Homo sapiens: one gene and its partners. The protein of the gene in region 3 purifies or fractionates together with the protein of the main gene of each other region. This does not show direct contact. Each region holds a gene or a part of one and is shown on either strand. Other genes may lie near its edges.

Evidence for each region.
Region 1: the proteins of GRPEL2 (region 3) and MMUT purify together in Homo sapiens (affinity purification with mass spectrometry; 2 studies listed by BioGRID and IntAct, with this or other methods). This does not show direct contact.
Region 2: the proteins of GRPEL2 (region 3) and FMC1 purify together in Homo sapiens (affinity purification with mass spectrometry, with the first as the bait; 3 studies listed by BioGRID). This does not show direct contact.

Annotation. Positions count from the first base shown.
Region 1 is NC_000006.12:49,439,175-49,446,496, forward strand, and holds part of MMUT (methylmalonyl-CoA mutase, mitochondrial precursor), read right to left. Parts: intron 5,581-7,322; coding exon 5,465-5,580; intron 2,798-5,464; coding exon 2,666-2,797; intron 1,180-2,665; coding exon 1,032-1,179; intron 1-1,031. UniProt on the Homo sapiens protein: Catalyzes the reversible isomerization of methylmalonyl-CoA (MMCoA) (generated from branched-chain amino acid metabolism and degradation of dietary odd chain fatty acids and cholesterol) to succinyl-CoA (3-carboxypropionyl-CoA), a key intermediate of the tricarboxylic acid cycle.
Region 2 is NC_000007.14:139,336,898-139,344,415, reverse strand, and holds the start of FMC1 (protein FMC1 homolog), read right to left. Parts: upstream 3,080-7,518; 5' UTR 3,032-3,079; coding exon 2,894-3,031; intron 1-2,893. Other genes in the region: FMC1-LUC7L2 readthrough protein, read right to left, coding at 2,894-3,031. UniProt on the Homo sapiens protein: Plays a role in the assembly/stability of the mitochondrial membrane ATP synthase (F(1)F(0) ATP synthase or Complex V).
Region 3 is NC_000005.10:149,341,436-149,348,645, reverse strand, and holds the start of GRPEL2 (grpE protein homolog 2, mitochondrial precursor), read right to left. Parts: upstream 3,148-7,210; 5' UTR 3,107-3,147; coding exon 3,030-3,106; intron 531-3,029; exon of another isoform or gene 375-530; coding exon 221-374; intron 1-220. UniProt on the Homo sapiens protein: Essential component of the PAM complex, a complex required for the translocation of transit peptide-containing proteins from the inner membrane into the mitochondrial matrix in an ATP-dependent manner.

The DNA.
Region 1 (7,322 bases), on a different chromosome or scaffold from region 3:
ACTTTATAGTTAGATGGGTCAGAAAGCACCCAGTTCATGATAGGCAGTTCTGGTCGCATGGTGACTTGATGACCCATAGTCAAACATTCAGTTTCCACCAAAGTCCAGTAACAGGCCAAGAGCTGTCTCTCAAAAGGAGAGTAGTTATCTGCAGAAGATGGCAGGCCCTTCCTCCAAAATCTTAGAGGCCTCTGCTGTGACTCACCTATGGGGGCCTGCCAAAGGCTCCAAACATCATTGCTATCTGCCACTGACACCTCAAGCACCATTGGATCTGCTGGGTCATATGGCCCAAGTGGCAGAGTAGCTTGCACAGCAGCCTGGACCTGTTGCAGAGCCTTCTCCTATTCTGGACCCCACTCAAAACTGGCAGTCTTTTGGGTCACTCGATAAATAGGCCAGAGTAACACAGAGTAACACATTCCAAATGAGGAATGTGTTGCTTCCAAAAATCCAAATAGGCCCACTAGGCATTGTTCCTCTTTCTTGGTTTTAGTAGGAGACAAATTCATTAATTTATCCTTCTAAGATTATCCTTAGAAGGAATATCTCAACAGGTCCCACACCACTGGACCCCTTACTGAGGGAGAAGGTCCCTGAATTTTAGTCAGATTTATTTCCCATCCTCTGGCATGCAACTGTCTCACCAATAAGTCCAGTATGTTTGCTACTTCTTGCTCACTGGATTTAATCAGTATAATGTCATCAATTAATGGACCAGTGTGATATCTTGCAGAAGTGAAAAGTGATCAAGGTCTCTCCGAATAAGATTATGACAAAGCCAGAGAGTTAATAAACCCCTGCAGTAGGACAGTAAAGGTATATTGCTGGCCTTGCCAGCTGAAGGCAAATTGCTTCTGGTGGGCCTTATGGGCAGGAATGGAGAGAAAGGCATTTGCCAAGTCAGTGGCTACATACCAGTTACCAGGAGATGTATTAATTTGCTCAATGTCTGTCATCATTTTACTACATTTTCTAAATGTAAGTGACTAGTAAATACTTTTGAAATTCCCCCCAACAGTTTTTAGTACCTGGAAAAGAGGGCCTATGTCCACATCAAAACCAAGATCAGCAAATCCTGTAGCAATAACTTTTGCTCCTCTGTCATGGCCATCTTGTCCCATTTTTGCTACAAGAAGACGAGGTCTGCGACCTTCACGTTCCATGAATTTATGAACCCTGAAAAACATTTAAAAATATATCAGTAGTTAGATACTAATTTTCCAAAGGGAAGATATAAAAACTAATTTATTCACAGCAAATCTTTCAAGTTTATTTAAAAGCACCTAATTTGTTTACTTGTATTTTGGGTTGTTTTTTTTTTCCAATTTTTATTTTACATTCAGGGGTTAATGTGCAGGCTTGTTACATAGTTAAACACGTGCCATGGTAAACAGCTGCATAGATCACCCCATCACCTAGGTATTAAGCCCAGCATCCATTAGCTATTCTTTGTGATGATCTCCCTACTCTCGTCCATATTTTGTTAATGCATCTATTTTACATTGAGAGCTCCATTAAAGCCATTTCCCCCTTAGAGGAAAGTCTGAAAGATGGCACAGACTGTAAGCACATAACACTGAGAACATCACGGTGAACTAAGACAAAAAATGACAACCTCCCACCTTCGTGAGCCAGGGTACAGAGTACAACATGCAGAAAGATTGAAATATAAACTAAAAAGTGACTTCATGGTCATTTATACATATATGTGATAGACTGGCTGCTTTGAATTGTCCATATCTCATCTACCCTTCATAAGTGTGAACTCTCCCAAGGTAACAGCAATATGGTTTCTTATCATGCTATATAAATCAAAATGCTTGCTTGCTCCACTGACAAATTTACTTCCAACACAAAAAAGCACTTATCTTTGTTAAAAGAAAAAAGTTCCATTTTGATGACTTTCACCTTGGCTGTTTTGATATTTATCTAGTGTACAAGTATGGAAATTCAGTTTTTAATTGGAAGCTTGTTACAGAGGTTGGAAAGACCAATCATCAAAAAGCTAGTTCTTACACTTGAGAAATATGATCACATTAATATATATTTCCAAGTCATGCTGTGGAAATAAATGTAAGTTATTATCAGTTCAATAAATACTGATTGTAATGTATGCATAGATGCCAACTAAATGTTTACTTTCAATTATGAAAATTAAGATTTTATAATTATTCAAGCAATGAAAAATGTAAACAACTTCAAAAAATATGAAACTCTACCATAGTAAGCAGATTGAAATATAAATACCTGGAGGATATGAAGCAATATCATTGTTAGTTAAACATCTGTTTGACATGAGAAACTCCTGAAGGGGACTATGGTGAAAGTTCAAAATAGTATTAATTATATGAAAACTAATATTAGTTTCAATATTTGATATTTATTATTAAATATTATCATGTACCTATTAAAATGATAGTATAGATATATAATATGTATCATGTATGATATATTTCTAATTATATATTATATGTAATGAATAAATTATATACTCTATTATATGTTATATAGTCTATATAATTAATATTTAATTTACTATTTATTATTATAAAATTCAAAAATTTTCTCAGTTGTATGTAAGGAAATTAAGCTCCCAGTAGATTCAAGGGGATTGTGCTAACAGAAAAGATGAAATTCTGGCCTAAGAAACCTTACATATTACCTCTTGATAGCAGATGTTATCTCTTTACTTTCTCCAAATTCCTGGCGATATGCTCCACTCACCATTCGATCATTCGCTTTATGTTCACCAAATACCTTTTTCAGGGCATCTGTGATTTCTCCCACTGTACATCTGAAACATGAAATGGTGGTTCCATTAACTTCATTATTTTGTGATAAAGATATCTGTTTACCATAATATTCAATATAATTAAACATTTTATTACATAAGTAAATGACTGTAAAAATGTAAAATAAGAATTTTTTAATGCATTATGAAAGCATCTCTTCTGAAATTACTTAAGAAAAATTTATTCTGGATGCCTTTATGCATCCAATTCTCTTTTCAACATTTGTCAACCAAGAAATGACTGAATGACCTAATAATTATATATATAGACAAGTACCTGAAGGTTGCTGAATAATTCACCACTTAACACAAATGGATAAACAGCAACACTCCCATAAATATTTTTTGATAAGAAGTAAATCTTTTAGCATATTCCATCCATTTGTTCACTAACTCATCCAACATTAGCTGTGTGCCTAATATGTGCCAGATATTACTATATCTCTATATCTACTATAGCGATACAGTAATAAATGAGACCAAAGAAAAAGTACTTGTTCTTATAGACATTAACATCTGTAACATCTAGTCAGAGGATGCAGATGATAAATAACTAAATAAATAAACTAGTAAGACAATTTCATAAGGTAATAAGTACTACAAAGACACTAAACCACGCAAAGATGGAATGGGCTGTCTGGAAGAACCATTTTAAAGTTATTGAAGATGTGAAGATATGACTTTTGAACTAAGATATAAATTATAAAAAGGGGGATCCCAAGGGAACATAAAACAGTAAGAGTGTTTGAAAAAGGAAGCACTAAAAGCAAAGGCTCTGAGATGTAGGAAAATATGTTTTATGTTCTAAAAATAGAAAGAAGGGCATTAGGAACACGGCATAGTGAGGAAAGTGGTATAAGATGAGGTCAGAGAGATGGGCAAGAGTCACATCTAGCACATCTTGCAGACTATCGGAAGATTAGGTTTGAATATAAAAGGAATGGGCAACCATCAAAGGACTTTAATAAAAGTCATCTAATTTTTTTAATGAAATTAGTAGTAGAAAAAAACAGTACATACAAGTTATACTATACCTTAACCAGTTAAAGCAACATATTTTTTTAAAACTTCATTATATTAAGAAATAAACACTTAAAAGCAAAAGTAATCATTTAATGATACTGCCATATATTGGGAGAAAATTTTCCATGGGTCACTTGCTTTTCTGCACATCCTGTGGAGCAAAGCACTGACACCTCTTTATTCTGGACTATCTTTTCAAAGATGTCTGTATAGTGAATCGCCTTAGAAGACAGAAATATTGGCTACCTCCAGAGCAAAGAGTAGGTTTGCTTTCTGTCCAATATAATAATGTCTTCCTCTAGAAAAATGGAGGACATGCTTATTACCCATTACAAAAGATTCCGAATCCCTAAGCTCAGGCTTCCTCTCCTTGAATGTAACCCAATGCACTGTACATGAGGTATCATCTAGCAGTCCTTTTCACATCACTCACATCAATTGGGCATCAAAGGAACTAGCCCAAAACCTGCTGATGTTATGGCTATTAATATTGTAGTAACAAACTGTCATTAGGTTCTGATCCAGGGATCTCATATCATCAACCAACACCCCACTATACAGGATAACTTGTTAGCTTGCAAGAAGGGTAATATTTCAGACTCCTTCTGGTTCTTAATATAATAAATTTATTTATATATGATACATATAATGAGATAATTTTTAAATAACAACAAATAGAAAAATAATAAAAATTAACACATTAAGTGCCATATTCTGTTCCAGGAACTATTTTTAATGATTTAATGTCTTCTCACAAAAATCCTATTAGGTAGTAAGTACAAAAAACTTTACCTTGCCAAATATCGTGTCTATGGGAACACTGAAGCAGATATAACATGAGATTAGATTCTGTTTTTCACTCAGCCTTTTTTAAATGCAGGATGACAAAAGTTAGGAGACAAAGGAGCATGTTAAGGGTTACAAAGGCAAAACGTCTCAAGAAGGAAGAGGTGGTCAATAATGTTAAATACTGTAGAGAATTCAAGATAAGGACTAAAAATTATTCACAATATCAGACAAAGAGGAGGTCTCTAGTGAACTTAGTAAGAGCAATTATATTACAGTAGAAAATCAAATGCAGTAGACCAAAATGTCAAAAGGAGATAAAAGACTAGTAACAATTAATAAGTATTCTACTCCTAAAGGAACACATGGCTCCAATAACAAGGGAAGGACTGGGAGGGGGGTGTGGGGAAGTTGGTTGCTCTTCCGGTTGCTTCATGGTTAAAACTAATTCAAAAGCAATGGGATGACAAGTTTTTCCTATAAATTCTCAGATTAATGTTCCCCTCCCCACCCCACAGCCATTTTAACTGGTAAAATACCAAGGTAATAGGCATAAACCTGGTGATATACTTGAGAGTCCAACACATTTCAACCTGCGAATCAGTGAAATGGATTCATTTCAATAGTTTCAAAATTCCTCAGCCACAGTAAAATACACAATTATTAATACAGTTCACTCAAAACATGAATGTTTTAAATACAGAAATTTTAAAATGATAAGAATTAAATTTACGATGGATGCCATTATTTTCTTTTGGGCTCACATGGTTTACAGGATCAACCTTTTATTTAAGTATACTCTGAAAAGCTAAACTGGTCAACTTTTAGTCTTTGGAAACCTCCAAACTTATATATCTTCACCTTGCCCGAGATGCATCCACTGCAAGAGCCAGGATATTTCCATCTCCGCTAGCAGCACATTCGGTTAGTGCAGCAAGACAACGTTCAGCCAAAGCTTGATCCCTGCTGGATTTGATCTATGGAAAAAGTCAAGGAAAGGGACAATTTACATGAAGAGAGAATAAAACAGAGATCAAGAGATTAGACCCTGATGCATAGCATATGGCATTTTTTTCCATAATCCTAACTCCAAATTTAAGAGGAAAAAATTGAAAAGAATAATATATAACCTAGGAATTTTATTCATTCAATTCATTCATTCACTCAGGATTTCCTAAAATAATATTACATTTGGTATAATCCTAACAAATCAGAAACATGAAGGGCAATAATAGTGCTGACCTTCCCAAGTAGCACATGTTACTTAGGCTTTTCTAAAGTACCAAGACATTGTAAACAAGTGGGTCTTTCATATGAAGTATTTTGAAGGAACACTAAAGATTAATAGTGACAAGAAAAAAAATCAAAACTTAGAGAATATTTTAGTTATATTTTAAGTTTCCTTTAGATAAATAACAATGTATTGATAATAATATGCATATTGCTATACTTTTATTTAAAAATAATCTCGAGAGCGAAAGAGGGACTAAGAAAAAGATATACAATGAAAAGCACAGTAAAAAAGTTTTCCCTGGGTCCTAACTCTGCTCTGCCAATAATTTGTCAAAATAAAGTTGCATAAATCCATTTTTTTACAAATTGTACCACCTGTAAAAGAGTCTAAAATATACTGCTCAAGATGCCACTAGTATTATATAGCATATATAAGCAGAGGTACAGAAAATTTATAGTCATCCCTCAGTATCTGTGAGTGATTGGTTTCATGACCCACTGCCCACCCTATCCACAGATAGCAAAATTCAGGGATGTTCAAGGCCCTTATATAAAATGATGTAGTGTTTGCATATAACCTATGTACATTTTCTTGTATACTTTAAATCATCTCTAGATTACTTATAATTCCTAATACAATGTAAATACTATATAAATAGTTGTTATAGTGTATGGTTTAGGAAATAACAAGAAAAAAGTCTGTACATATTCAGTACAGACATATCCATTCTTTTTTTCTCAAATATCTTCAATTCATTATTGGTTAAATCTATAGATGTGGAACCCACAGATATGGAGGTCCAACTATATTTAGAGCAAGAAAAAACTCAACTCCAAATTCTCCATAAAAATGCCCATTTTTCTTTATCTTTTATTGGAGAAAGAAACAATAAACACATACAATTTAAGAGAAAAATAAAGTAAATCGAGTAAATAACGAAGTGATTTGGCACAAGGTAGTAGGGTGCTATTGTAGATATTGGATCACTGTAAGCTTCTTAGATAAGGTGACATTTGAGCAAAGACCTAAGAAGTACACCTTTTCTGGTTTACTAGAAAATTAGTCATCCTTAGATTAGGTAGTTTGCTATAATTATCTCAACAACAGATTACTAAAATTCAGGGAGTGAAAACAGATGCTAAAATTAATTAGGGCTGACGGTTACAGAAAAATAATTTAATATAAAATTACTGTTGAGATAGTTCACATTTTTAAAAAAATTACCACCACAGGTAAAATATTGTTAAAACCATAGGTAAAAGGAAAGCGTAAGAAAATATAAACTTGAGTTCATTACTAAAGAGAGCTCAGAGTATTGCAGCAGAAATATATTTTGCTATAAAAATATCTGATTCTAGCTATGAAAATTAATTTTTGTAATAGAAGAACTTTGATTTGGTCATGGTCCTAAGAAAGTTCAAAACTAGGAAAAAGTTACATCAGAATATCCATTTCTCCTAAACTGGCTCTAGAGTCAAAAAGCCT
Region 2 (7,518 bases), on a different chromosome or scaffold from region 3:
AGGTATTATAATCTAGAGATGACAAAGTATACAGGAGGATGTGCATAGGTTATATTGCAAATACTACAGCATTTTATGTCAGGGACTTGAGCATCCATGGATTTTGGTATTCCTGAGTGGGGGTGGGGGGTGTCCTGGAACCAGTCCCCACAGTTACTGAGGAATGGCTATTCTCGCTCTTACAATTTGCTTATCCATCTTGAAAACTCTGGACTCATGACTTTAAGAAGCTAGAAATTCCATATCCATTCCAAAGTCCCCAAATGATTCCAAACCTTTTTTCTTCATCATACTTAACTTTTGAGATTCACTGCACCCTCTTTAACTAGTTCTGTATTCAAGGCTGTGAGAAAGGGGCAGGAAAGGTGAGATGGGGATGTGTGCATAGCTCTGAGGGACTAAAGGAGCCATGTCCAAATGTGGATAAATCTGGGCACCACTGCCTACATAATACGCCCCCCACCAACTCTTTTTTTTTTTTTTTTTTTTGGGGACAGGGTCTCACTTTGTTGCCCAGGCTGGAGTGCAATAGCGTGAACATGGCTGCTGATCTCCCCAGCTCAAGTGATCCTCCTGCCTCAGCCCCGCAAGTAGCTGGGACTACAGACGCACACCACCATATCCGGCTAATTTTTGTATTTTTTATACAAACAGGGTTTCACCATGTTGCCCAGGCTGGTCGTGAACTCCTGGGCACAAGCGATCCACCTGCCGCCTCCTCCCAGAGTGCTGGGATTACAGGTGTGAGCCACCGCTCCTGGCCTAATCCCCTTTCTCTATTTGAATATCTAGTGTTAGAATCTGAAAACTAGAATGTGTGTGGCTTCTTGGTTTTTGAGACAGGGTCTCGCTCCGTGGCCTATGCTGGAGAGCAGTGGTATGAACATGGCTCACTGCAGCCTTGATCGACTTCTTGGGCTCAAGTGATCCTCTCACCTCAGCTTCCCAATTAGCTGGAACTAGAGGATGGGCCATCACGCCTGGATAATTTTCAAATTTTTTGGAGAGGAAGTCTCACTACACTATGTTGCCCATGCTGTTAGAATGTGGGTTTTAGGATCTGCAGATCATGTTGAAAGCAACATTCATTAGCTGCTTAAAAACAGAATTAATCTGCTTTAATACAAATTTAACTTTTTAGTAATTTAAATTTTATGAGAAATCAACACCAATGTCAAGCATTAACAAATCATAGCATCCACTTCTATTAATATATAAGCCCAAATTTGTGGAATTTGACATGGGAATTCTAGGTTAATGTAGGATAGAATACTGCTCTTGATTCGGTTGAGCCTGAATCATGAGGACAAAAGGGTCAGCAATAGACAGGAAACAGTAAATAGATCACAAGAACCCAAAAGAGATCAAATGAAATAGAACACTGTATTTTCCCTGTGGAGAAAGGGTAGGTTTCTCCCTAATAGAATCCCTTCTCCGGAGGGAAAGGATAGAGAAAATGGGATGGTTATTCAGTTAGCTGTGAGCCTGAAGGAAACAGAAACCATTTCCCCTATGCTCAAGTGCATTCCAGAGTGGTATTTCCAGAATGTACCATGAATTTCAGAACCATTACCAAGTCTCTCTCAAGGGTAATAATGTTATCCCCATAAGGTACAACTATAATCATGTCACCTCCTTAAAAATCTTAGAATGGGGCCAGGTTTGATAGTTCACGCCTGTAATTACAACACTTTGGGAGGCCGAGGCAGGCGGATCACCTGAGGTCAGGAGTTCAAGACCAGCCTGACCAACATGGAGAAACCCCGTCTCCACTAAAAATACAAAATTAGCCGGGCGTGGTGTCGCATGTCGCCTGCCTGTACTACTCGGGAGGCTGAGGCAGGAGAATCGCTTGAACCTGGGAGGTGATCACAATCTTAGAATGGCTTCCCATTACACTTACAATAAAGTTTAAGTTCCTGTTCGGCCTACCACTTCATCTACCTCCACTTCACCCACCACACCTTAGGGCTAAACCACTCTCAACTGGCAATTTTTCTCCCCTTGGGCTTTCAATTGTGTAGCTTTTAAACCTGGACCCTAACCCCAATTTACTTGCTAACTCCAAATTAGCCTTCAGGTCCCTGATTAATTTCCTCCGGAAAACCTTCCCTAACTACCCCTTCTTTATACCCCAGCCCCTGTTGTCTACACCTTGAGCACTTATTTATCCTCAGTACTTTACTGTATGGCTCCTTAGGTGGGCAGCAAGTGTCTTAAGGACAGGACACATGTGCATCTGATTCTTCCTGTTTAGACCAGGTTCCTAGCACAGACCCTAACGTTGCCACCTTTTAAAAACTAGGTGAATTTGAGTTCTAAGATTTTACATTCTGACGTCCGTGGCTCAGAAATTCGACAGTTGATCGTTCTCCCTTTCCCCACATTGCTCAAGGGCAGCAAGTTTCCTTCCCTAAAGCCCAGTTGTTCTTTTCCGCCTCAAAAAGAAATGCTTCTTAGAATAACTTTTCTAGGGGACGGGTGAGGAAATTGTTGGCCAGATGCTGTGGCTTTAAGTCTAGCAACAGTACACCCTTCAACTCCATCTTCATTGTTTTATCCCCAGCATTGAATCCTCCATTCCACTTTCCTGACTGCCCTCCGCAGAGGCAACAGACCAGCCAATGAAATCCTTCGGGACGGGTCCGCCCCTCTGCAGGACAGGCTGACGTCCCCAGAGCGACTCTGCGCCCCCCCCCGCTGGTCCTTTGGTCCCCGAGTTTATGCCAGAGCATGGAGCCTAGGGCCTGGGTTGGTTTGGTCAGAACCAGGGCTCCGTGGGAGGGTTGGCCTCAGAAATGCAGGAATTAAACACCGTGCTCCCCACCCTAGCCCAGACCCGGCTCTTCCTCCCTCCCCAGCACGTAGAGCACCCGGGACATGGCTCCCGTACCCGATGTGCACGGAAAGCCTTCACAAGGTACCGATAGGCCGCGGTGTCGCGATAGGGTCGGCCGGTGGCCGCGCTCAGGTAGCGCAACTCCCGCAGAAGTCCTCGAAAAGTGTGCGACGGGGACCCTAAGGCCGCCATTGTCCTGTCCTTCTCCGAGCGTGGTGCCCAACGGCGTCCTACGACCCTGAAAACCCCTCCTCCGGCCCAGGCGCCTAATGGTACGGTCGGACAGACTACCGACTCCCCCTATCGACTGACGAGCAGTGGAACCGCTCACTTGTCCGTTGACCGAACCTTATTAATCGAAGGCCCAGGGGCGCCGTAACAAAATCAAACGAAACCCGACTGTTAACTGAAGGTACCAGGACCTCTAACCCAGAACAAGGGTTTGGGGAAACAGGGGCTTTTCTTCACTGCGTCATTGAAGATGCCCGTTAGCCGACCAACCGCTGAGTCTCAGGAGAAGCGGGCCCGGCGGGGGGTGTGGGTGTGGATTTGATATGGAACACGCTGAGAAGACATTTTTAAATGATTTATAAAAGGGATATCAAAATTCAACGTATTGACGTCTCCCCAAATCCCAGGGGACCTGCGGCTCAGACAAAGGACATGGGTGTGTGCAGATTCTCGAAAATTGCAGCCCACCAGCTAGTAAAAACACACACACACTTCCCATTTAAAAAAAAAAAAAGTAAAGTTGGCATATTTCGCTTTGTTTAGAAAGGGGAAAAAAGGACAAAAGTCACAGGCCACCCCAGATGGGACTCGAACCCACAATCCCTGGCTTAGGAGGCCAATGCCTTATCCATTAGGCCACTGGGGCTTCTGCAAACGACGCGCTCACACAACATATTCAACTATTTTCCTCTTTGGTACGTCATCGTCACTTCATTTTCGCCTTACCCTATCCCACGAAACCACACCTAGCGCCCACGTGAGGGGTGACGTATGCTGGGAGTTGTAGTTAGAGAACAAAAGTCCACATCACCGCGCCAAAGGCTTTACCCTCGAAACTGCACCGATGCTCCGGACGTTGAACGGGCGCGCGCACGCTTCTGCGTACGCGCTTGCCTGCGCAATAGTCTCCGCGCCTGCGCCGTAGTCCCCGCGCCTGCGCAAAAGCGGGCATGCGCCGTCGCGGAGCACAGCGCGCTGGGCAAATTGGCCGGATCTTCGAGACTCGCCCTCTGAACGTCAGCTCTGGTGGGTTTTTACCGGAAGCAGCCGGACCTTTTCCGGTGTTGCGAATTTCCAGGAGGAGCTTTGCTCCAGCGGCCGTTAGATGGCGCCTGCCGCGGTCAATTTCTGCTTCCGGTTGAAGCGTTGAGGCCATTTCCGCAGGCCGGGCGTGGTGGCGCACGCCTGTAATACCAGTACTTTGGGAGGCCGAGGCGGGCGGATCATCTTAGGTCGGGGGTTTGAAACCAGCCTGACCAACACAGAGAAACCCTGTCTCTACTAAAAATACAGAATTAGCCGGGCGTGGTGGCGCATGCCTGTAATCCCAGCTACTCCGGAGGCTGAGGCAGGAGAATTGCTTGAACCCTGGAGTCGGAGGTTGTAGTGAGCCGAGATCGCGCCATTGCTCTCTAGCCTGGGCAACAGGAGCGAAACTCCATCTCAAAAAAAAAAAGAAACATGTGCCGTGTCCTTTGAATTGGTGCGTCAGCGATAAACATGGGACAGCGGGGAAGTAATAGTACATTGATTAGGAATTAATTTTAAAAATTAGCAGTTCATTTTTTGGTTCTGTTCCTAATTGTATAACGAACAAATCACTTCGGAGTCCCAGTAAACTTACCCTTATAGTATCACAGGGGCTTCCCATTGTCCCTAAGATAAAGCTCAGACGACATAAATTGATCCTCGCTTGTACCTTAATCTTCATCTCTCACTTTTCGCTTATCACCCTCTGCTCCAGGTATCTCCACTTTCATTGTCTCTTCCCCACCACACACCTTACCTGATATTCCCTCTGCCTGAAACTTAACCATTTGTATTAATATGCCTCTTTACCCTTTGGGCTTCAGCTTACTCCAGAAGTCTAGGTTAGACGCTTCTCCAGGCCCTTGAAGTCAATACGGCAAGGTGAAAATTATTCATTTCACCTCCTCTGGTCCCCTGTTGCTCCCTTTATTTACTCATCGTAAATAACTCTTAATGTAGGTACATGGCCACTACTCCATACTGTAGTTGTCAGTCTCTTCCATCAGACTGGGAAATTGTTCAGCTCCGAAAGCCCTGTGCCTAACAGAAAAGCCTGTTTCTTCACCAGGCTTATTCCTTGGTAGCATAGTCATAACAGCTTAGTCTGAAGCTCCTAAAGGGATTGGCACTGTCTGGCCCCAGTGGCTAGGAGACATAAGCTACTGAGCAGGAATGACAAACAAATGGAACATCAATTGTTCATTAATGAGTAAAGCTGGCTTGGTTGGAAACCTGGTGAACTGGACAGCAACTAGCCCACCTGTCCAGGGGGCAGCCATTACTCACCTCCACTGATTGTTGCCATTTTAGGAAAGCAAATCCTTTAAAAACCTTTTTTTTTTTCAGGAAACTCTGGAAATCTGTTTTAATGCTATAGATTTCCTTCTAAATATTGGCCACTAATGAATACTTTAAAAGTACTGCATGCCAAACAGCCCACAGACTTCTAGTCTGTAAAGAAAGAAGAAAAAAAGGGCGATAGGATTTGAAGTTAAGAAAAGGTAAAAAACATGTGGCGTGCCTAGTTCGTGGGAAAAAAAGCTGGTTTGATGATCCTGCCTTTTTATTTTTTCTTTTTAGAAAAATTTTTACAACTATATTGTCTTTTTAAGTTTTTAAATGATTTTTTTCTTTCCTATCATCTCCTTAGCCTGATACCCTGCCTTATCTTTAGGAAAAAAATGCTCCTGATAATAAATACAAAATATAATAAACTCATTTGTATTAACATGTGAGATTCTGTTCAAAACCCAGCCTCATTATAGGTCACTCTTCAGCACCCTCAGCTGATTACCACACTGGCTAAATTAAGGAACTTACACATCTTAAACAGCCTTCTCAAGATTACCATTTTAAATGTTCCCCACTCTTGGCCGGGTGCTGTGGCTCACGCCTGTAATCCCAGCACTTTGGGAGGCTCAAGGGGGGGCGGATCACTTGAGGCCAGGAGTTCAAGACCAGCCTGGCCAACGTGGCAAAAACACATTCTCCACTAAAAATACAAAAATTAGCTGGGTGTGGCGGTGCGTGCTTGTAGTCCCAGCTACTCTGGAAGCTGAGGCAGGAGAATTGCTTGAACCCAGGAGGCAGAGGTTGCACTCCAGCCTAGGTGACACAGCGAGTGCGAGCCTGTCTAAAAAAAAAAGTTCCCCACTCGTACGTATTTCCAGATACTGAGGGTTTTCGGATACTACTTTTTGGCTAGACACACCAACTAATTATTTAACCGAGTGTACAGTGATAGAATTAAATCTCCCAGGAGCCTGGCAACAAAGCAAGACTCTGTCTCTATAAAAAAAATCGATGTATATATGGTGGTGCGTGACCGTAGTTCTAGCTATGCAGTAGTTTGAGGATCACTTAGCCCAGAAGTTCAAGGCTGCATTGAGCTATTATCTCTCCACTGCATGGCACCCTAGGTGACACCAAGACACTGTCTCTAAAATAATAATAATTGTTGGGAGCAGTGGCCCACGCCTGTAATCCCAGCACTTTGAGAGGCTGAGGCAGATGGATTGCTTGAGCTCAGAAGTTTGAGACCAGCCTGGGCAACAGCGAAAACCCACTTCTACAAAAAAAATTTTAAACTTAGCTAGGTATGGTGGTGTGTGCCTGTATTCCCAGCTACTTGGGAGGCTGAGGTGGGAGGATCGCTTGAGCCTGTGGTGAGCCTTGATCACGCTACTACACTCCAGCGTGGGTATCAGAGTGAGACCCTGTCTCAAAAAAAATTTTTTTTCTTTTTGTGAAGGTGTTTCTGTTTTGTTTTGTTTTGTTTTTGAGATGGAGTCTCACTCTGTTGCTCAGGCTGGAGTGCAGTGGCAAGATCTCAGCTCACTGCAACCTCTGCCTCCCGGGTTCAAGTGATTCTCCTGCCTTAGCCTCCCGAGTAGCTGGGACTATAGGCGCATGCCATCATGCCCAGCTAATTTTGTTTGTTTGTTTTGAGACGGAGTCTTGCTCTGTCACCCAGGCTGGAGTGCAGTGGCGCAATGTTGGCTCACTGCAAGCTCCGCCTCCCGGGTTCACGTCATTCTCCTGCCTCAGCCTCCTGAGTAGCTGGGACTATAGGCACCCGCCACTAAGCCCAGCTAATTTTTTGTATTTTTAGTAGAGACGGGGTTTCACCATGTTAGCCAGGATGGTAATTTTGTATTTTTAATAGAGATGGGGTTTCACTATGTTGGCCACGCTGGTCTCGAACTCCTGACCTCAAGTGATACACCCGCCTTGGCCTCCCAAAGTGCTAGGATTACAGGCGTGAGCCATCACACCAGACATTTTTTTTCTTTTTGAAGTGGTTTATTTAATTAATTAATTTATTTTTGAGACAGAGTCTTGCTCTGTCACCCAGGTTGGAGTGCAGTGGCGCGATCTCAGCTCACTGCAATCTCCACCTCCCAGGTTCAAGCGATTCC
Region 3 (7,210 bases):
AGGAAACCGAAAAGAGATGACTATCTTTAGCCAGTGGTGTTTTTCAACTACTACAGTTTTTTTCTGCCCAGTATACCTAGCAAGGAGTGGAGGAGGGATGAGGGGTAGCAGATAAAGAGCCAATTAAAGAAAACTTCATTTTGAAAATTGACATAAAAAACTTTATGTGGATATTTAAACTAGAGAGAGGATATGAAGAAGAAATATAAAATTGACTCACTGTTAAATCTTGGACTTCTTTCTCCAGTTTAACAGCTTTTACCCTTAAGGCTCGTTCAGCAAGAGGGGGCCCAAGCTCATCAGGAGGGTCCTCAGAACGGCAGTCCTCACCAGCAGTTCTCTGGGTGGCAGTGCTGAATGGAAGCGGCCATCCCCTAAAACAGGAAGGAGGTGGCACATAATGAAGAAATGCCATCATAAGCCAAAATTACAACCAAGTTTAGAGACCAGAGATCTTCCCAGATGGAATCTCTGGAGAAAGTGTTTTCAGTTATAGTAACAAATGAACACTTACGAAGTCCTTACCATGTACCAGACACTGTTTTACTTGAGTCATCTTTTCCTCTCACAACAATATGTGAGATAAGTCCTATCATTATCCCTATTTTACAGATGAGAAAACTGATGCTGAGAGGCTTAAGGCATAATGGCCTGCTCAAGATCACATAGTTGGTATTCCGCTGGGTCAGGACACTAAGAACCAGGCAGCAGAAATAGCCAGAACTGGGTATACAAAAGTCAGCATAAGGAAACCAAATGCTAGTACCCAGAACCAGAGGAGCATTGTCAGAAGTGGGCATTCAAAAAGTCATATAGTTCTGGTTCAACCTTCTAACTTACAGATGAGGGAAATTAAGTCCAGTAAAGGGACCTTAAGGCTTAGAATTCTAAGCCTTCCTCACCACAACCTGTAAGGCTTTTAGGAGACCTGTGCTGAGAAAGAAATTCCCACCTATAAATAAGATCAAGTCAATGAAATACTTATACAATACTATATGTTACTGCCGGTGAATAGACACAGGTGAAAATAGATCTTTGCATTCAACTAGTTATGTAATCTAGAATTTTGTACAGCTAAACTGTTTTGACATTTAGTTCAGTTTACACAGAAATAAATTTAGACTAGGGGCTAGTTTACAGCAAATCTTGGGCTGTGGCAGTCCTGACCTGGCCCAGTTCAAGGAAGTTTCCACTGCAACTCCTGGATCTTCGTAATTTGACTGTAAGTAAAATTATCTTGAAAATCAATCTGTGAGTACATGAGTTCTTTAAAACAATTTTTATGGACTGGCATATACTGTAGAGTGGTCCTCACGGAGACAGCTGAGCAAAGGCTTAAAGAGGGTAAAGGAGTCAGCTTTAGAAAAGGGAAGAGCATCCTGGGCAGAGCAAATAGCTAGTTTAAAGGTGTAAGCAAGAGGACTTTTATCTCTCCTACTTTCCAAGCTGATCTTAAATTCAATTATTATAATCCGGTGTGTGATTTTATAGACAGTTCCACATTTTGGGGTCAGAAAATATGGTCACCGTAGATCTGGGGCTAATTACACACGGTGAAACATCTTCTCCCTAAAAAAACCACATTTATCCACTTGAAAAAGCAGGTCAAAATATTCTCAGGGGCCGGGCGCGGTGGCTCACGCCTGTAATCCCAGCACTTTGGGAGGCCGAGGCGTGCGGATCACGAGGTCAGGAGATCGAGACCACGGTGAAACCCCGTCTCTACTAAAAATACAAAAAATTAGCTGGGCGTAGTGGCGGGCGCCTGTAGTCCCAGCTACTCGGGAGGCTGAGGCAGGAGAATGGCGTGAACCCGGGAGGCGGAGCTTGCAGTGAGCCGAGATTGTGCCACTGCACTCCAGCCTGGGCGACAGAGTGAGACTCCGTCTCAAAAAAAAAAAAAAAAAAAAAAAAAAAAAAAAAAAAAAAATTCTCAGGGCCAGTTCAAAGGGAAAATGGCCAAAGCTTAGACCAAGAAATAGGGTTGGGGAGTTGTGGCCAATCTCAATTCCTACTGCTTCAGAACTGGAGTAGGGAGACAGCTTACCAGAAGGAACCATTTTTCTTCTGGTCATTTCCTTACATCACCAACAAGCTGCCAAAAAGACTTGAGAACGGTAAGCAAAACCAAGTCCCGAAACCCTGAATGCAACCTCTCACTTAGGTGCTAGGGTAGGATGTTGGGTCAGGTGTGTTAAGGTAAAAAGGGTGACATATGTAGTTAAGCACATTTACCAGATTCTCCCGTAGCTTACTTTACTATTCAGAGGTCCAACCCTACCTCGTACTCAACTATTTTTATTCTCTATCCCAGGAAGAAACAGTGTAGGGGCAACAGTCTCTGAGAAAATTAATTAACATCGCTCATTAAATAAGAGCGCCGATTCCAACGCCCTGACTGGTTTCCAGCCCGGGTTCCACCACTTCCCAAATATTTAAGTTTGGAAGTTACTCAACTTTTCTAAACCTCACTTTCCTTAACTACTAAATGGGTAATAATAAAAAGAACCACCCATAATTCTGCAGTCGGCCTCGTAAGCGACCAATAAAAGCTGCCGATGGAACTTGTCTTCCGAAGGCTGATGCAATGGCCGTTTGGAGAAACAAGTTCAGCGGCCTCCTTTTACTGACAGGTACAACAGTGCCCGGATAACGGAGAAAGGACTGGCCTTAGGTCACACGGAGTGAGGGGAGAGAACCCAAATTTACCCACAGGTACCACAGGCTGGGAGAAGAGGCCGGGAGAGTGGTACATCCCTCCCTTGGGGGCTTAAGAGACTTCTCACCTTCCAGGCCATGCATGACCTCGGATCTCCTTACCTTCCTCGGCCTAAGAAAGAGGCACGGCTGATGGCCTCAGTTTCCCCGTCTGTAAAATGGGGCCGTGAGTGCACGGTCGTAGAGGCCGAGAAGCTTGGTCCCCTGGCCTACGCTCAGATAGCTCTCGCCTTCCAGCCCACAACCACCCCGGCTGGCTCGCTAGCCCCTCAGAGTCCTCACGCTCCCGACTCCCCGCCTGCAATGCTTACTTGCTCTCCCACGCGGCACTCCAGGCCAGTAGGCGCTGCACCCGCAGCCGGCCCGCCCACAGCGACCGTACGGCCATGTTTCCAATTTGGGCTGAGAGGCAGCGCACGCGCACTTGCTGCGAGTGAAGAGATGCTCCCGCTTAAAAACCAGCCTTTGCGGGCGTTTCCCTCTCAGGACTTCCGGACAGGAACGCTATGCTTCCGGTTGCCCGATGGGCCGCGCCGTTCCCCATCCGGTCGTCCGGAGCTAAGGCAACACTTCCGGCTCTCAGTGTGTTCCGCGGGTAGGCGAGGTCCTAGTAGTAACTACAGTCTCCGTGCTGGGCGCAGGGTCGGCAGCAAAGAAAGCAGATCATAGCTGTGCCCGCATGGAGCTTACTTGATATTATGAGCGATAAACAGATACAAGCGGGATGTAAAGTCAGAATATGAGCGGTGTTTGAAGGTGAGGGGCAGGTGTCGCGGAAGCCTAGAATAGAAATCTAGCCTTGTGGAAAGTTTTCCCAGAGGAAGGGGGTATTTGAGCTGAGCTGAAGAAAGGGTTCAGGCAGAGGGAAACATCTGCAGAAGCCTAATAAAGAGAGAAGAGTATTGCATGTAAGGGACTGAAATATACTGAGGCGGGAGGGCAACAGGACTGGTGGTTAGGAAGGGCTAGATCACGTGAGCGGTTTAAAACATCGCAGCCTGAACCATTGCCCATCACTCCTCCCAGTCTTTTTCTCTAATGCCCTTCTTATCGACTGAATTGTTTTTTTAAATAGTGTGTATTTTCTCATTTCCTCTCACTAAAATATAAGCTCTTTTAAGGCAGAGATATTGTCTATTCATTCCCATTGAGCAGTGCCCTAATGTAGGTGTTCAAAATTATTTTTTTTGAGATGGAGTCTCACTCTGTCACCCAGGCTGGAGTGCAGTGGCACGATCTCGGCTCACTGCAACCTCTGCCTCCCAGGTTCAAGTGATTCTCCTGCCTCAGCCTCCTCAGTAGCTGGGATTACAGGCGCCCACTACACCCGGCTAATTTTTGTATTTTTAGTAGAGACAGGGTTTCACCATGTTGGTTAGGCTGGGCTTGAACTCCTGACCTCAGGTGATCTGCCTTCCTCAGCCTTCCAAAGTGCTGGGATTACAGGCATGAGCCACCGCCCCCGGCTTCAAAAAACTTTTTTGCTGAATGCAATTTAGTCTGATTCTGATTGCAATGGAATGTGAAAATAAATAAAACCTAAAAGCTGTTGGAACCTCCCAAATACTTGAAGCTTTGAGAGAGATGTGGCTGTGGTCTGAGTCCATGTAGCATGTTTTGTAGTTCTGCTTCTTAGAATTATAGCTTAATTCTCTTCCTCATTGTTCTTGTTCTGTAATGACTAGGAAAGAGCAGAGACCAGATTTCTTCCCTCTCAATTACTGATGTTTGTAATAGACAGCCTCCTTTATTGTCCTGCACCTAACTCAGACTAGATGGTGCCCTGAACTGAACTGACCCCATGACAGTTACATCTGCAGGATGTGATGTTAAATGTACCTTTCTTGAAGGAAAAAGACCACCTTAACTACTCAGATCATTGTAACTGTGCATTAAGCCTTGCATAGAAAGATGTTGAAATTCTGTTAAACCTCACTGAACCCAACCTTTCACACTTTGGAACACTGACTTCCATCTTTTTTAAGACAGACATATTTTTCCATTCTGTGCTTCCTGGGCAGGCCATCCTCAACCTTTGTGCTTGAATAAACTCTCTTTAAACTAGATTCTGACCTTTTAAATTATTTTAGATTGACAGGGAACATGTGACAAAGGCTTTCATGTTTAAAGAGTCACTTTGACTGCTGTGTGAAGCAGATTGCAAGGTGTAAGAAAAGAGGTAGGGAAGGCAATATGTTGCAGTAGCCCAGGCAAGATGGGGCTATATTCTGTCCTGGAAGAACAGAGAGAGACCTTCCTAACCACTGTAAAGTAACTGTGTCCAGCACCCTTTTAGTTTCTTAGTATTTTATTTCTTTTGCTTCCTTGTTAAGGTTTTTTCCTCCAACTAGAATGTGAGCTTCATGAGGTGTCTGTCTTGTTCACCACTGATTTCTGACATCTAGTATAGTAGGTACTCAAGTATTTGTTGAATGACTTAATTAAGTTGGATAGTGTCAGTGAAGATAGGAAGATATGGATGAATTTTAGAGATTTAGGATGGAAAGCTGACAGACTGAGAGGATGGATTGGTGACTGGGGTCCAGGGCACTTGGAGTTGCCAGCTTAGTTACTGGATAGTCCCTTAATTTTTTTTTTTAAGGGAATGGGAAGTGTTCCTTGAGCACTCTGAATCTTGTCATAACATGGGTTATTTGTACTGTAGTTATTTGGGTCACATTTTCTTTCCTGCTTGTCTCTGAGTTCCATGAGGACAGAGCTGGAGTATTTTCATCTTTTTATCTAATCCGAGGTCCAACTCAAATGTGTCATGACCAATAACTTATATTTTCTTTTTGGCCTTATGAAAAGGGTGATATGGTTTAGGGAGGTATTATGATTCTCTTTTACATATGAGAAAATTGAGGCTCAGAAAGGTTGGTAAACCTATGCAAGATCCCGCAATAAGGAAACAGTGACAGTAGAATTCTGACAGACTGAACACTTGGCAGTGTTGGGCTTAGACCTGTGGCTTACACTTTGAAAAAACACAACCAAATAAGGCATTTTTTTTTTTTTGAGATGGAGTCTTGCTATTGCCCAGGCTGGAGTGCAGTGGTGCGATCTCGGCTCACTGCAACCTCCACCTCCCGGGTTCAAGTGATTCTCCTCCCTCAGCCTCCCAAGTAGCTGGGACTACCGGCATGTGCCACCGTGCCCAGCTAACTTTTGTATTTTTGATAGAGATGGGGTTTTGCCATGTTGGCCAGGCTGGTCTTGAACTCCTGACCTCAAGTGATCCACCCGCTTCGGCCTCCCAAAGTGCTGGGATTACAGGCATGAGCCACCATACCTGGCCTAAACAAGGCATTTTAACAACCAAGAACAAGTGGCATCTGTGCCTTAGCCATTTTGCTTACATTTCTCCTAGCTGCCTAACGTTCACCAGGTTGCTGCTTGCATCCATGCATTCATTCGTCTATTTATTAAGTGCTAGTGTGCTTCTGAATGTTGCAGTACAAGGGGAGGGAGATATATGGATGACATAGAGCTTTAAAATTAAGAATAAGGCTCTAGGGTCAGACTTCTTATATTCACATGCTGGCTCCACCAGCATGTAAATATAAGAACTATGGGAGCTTGGACAAGTTACCTGACCTCTGTGAGCTTCCATTTCCTGAACTGTGAAAACTAGGGCAATATAACTTATCTCAGGGTTTCAGTGAAAACTAAAGGGATAATACCTAGAAAAGTGGTTAGTTAGCACCAGGACTGGCTATCTAATTTAAAGGGCAAAAGGAAAAGCAGAACTCCTTGTTCAAATATGATTAAGAAGGCAATAGTAGAGCATTAAACCAAGAACAGGGCCCTTCTAAGCATGGGGCCCTGTGTGACTGCACAGGTTGCATGCCTGTGAAGCTGGCCATGGCTGACACAGTGCCTGACATATGGTGAGTGCTTGATAAATGTTAATTATTAATTACCCCCAGCCACTCCTCTGAGAGTTCATCTGTTGGTGAGAAAAGACACTTAACCCCAAAATAACTGCATAAGAAAGAGTATGACAGACACTGAAGACATAGTTGGAGAGTTAGGTGACATTTCAGGATCCACGTTTTAAAAAAGAACACTGAAAAGTAATTTCCTCTTCAGTGGAAAGAACACAGGCTTGTGAGTCAGACATTTCTGATATAGCTAATAATAGCCACTTTTTTTTTTTAATAGATGGGGTCTTGCTATTTGCTTAGGCTGGAGTGCAGTGGCAATTCACAGGCGTGATCATAGTGCACTACAGTCTCAAACTCCTGGGCTCAAGCGGTCCTCCTGCCTCAGCCTCCTGAGTAGCTGGGACTACAGGCGAGTACCACCATGCCTGGCTAATGAGAGCCACTATTGACTGAGCATTTCTTATTTCTCAGACACTATGCAAGATGCCTACTATATATTATCTTATTAAATCTTCCCAACAATCTTGGGAGAAAAGTAACAATTGTTAGTCCCATTTCACAGATAAGGAAAACAAGAATCAGAGCAATCAAGTGACTTTCCCAAG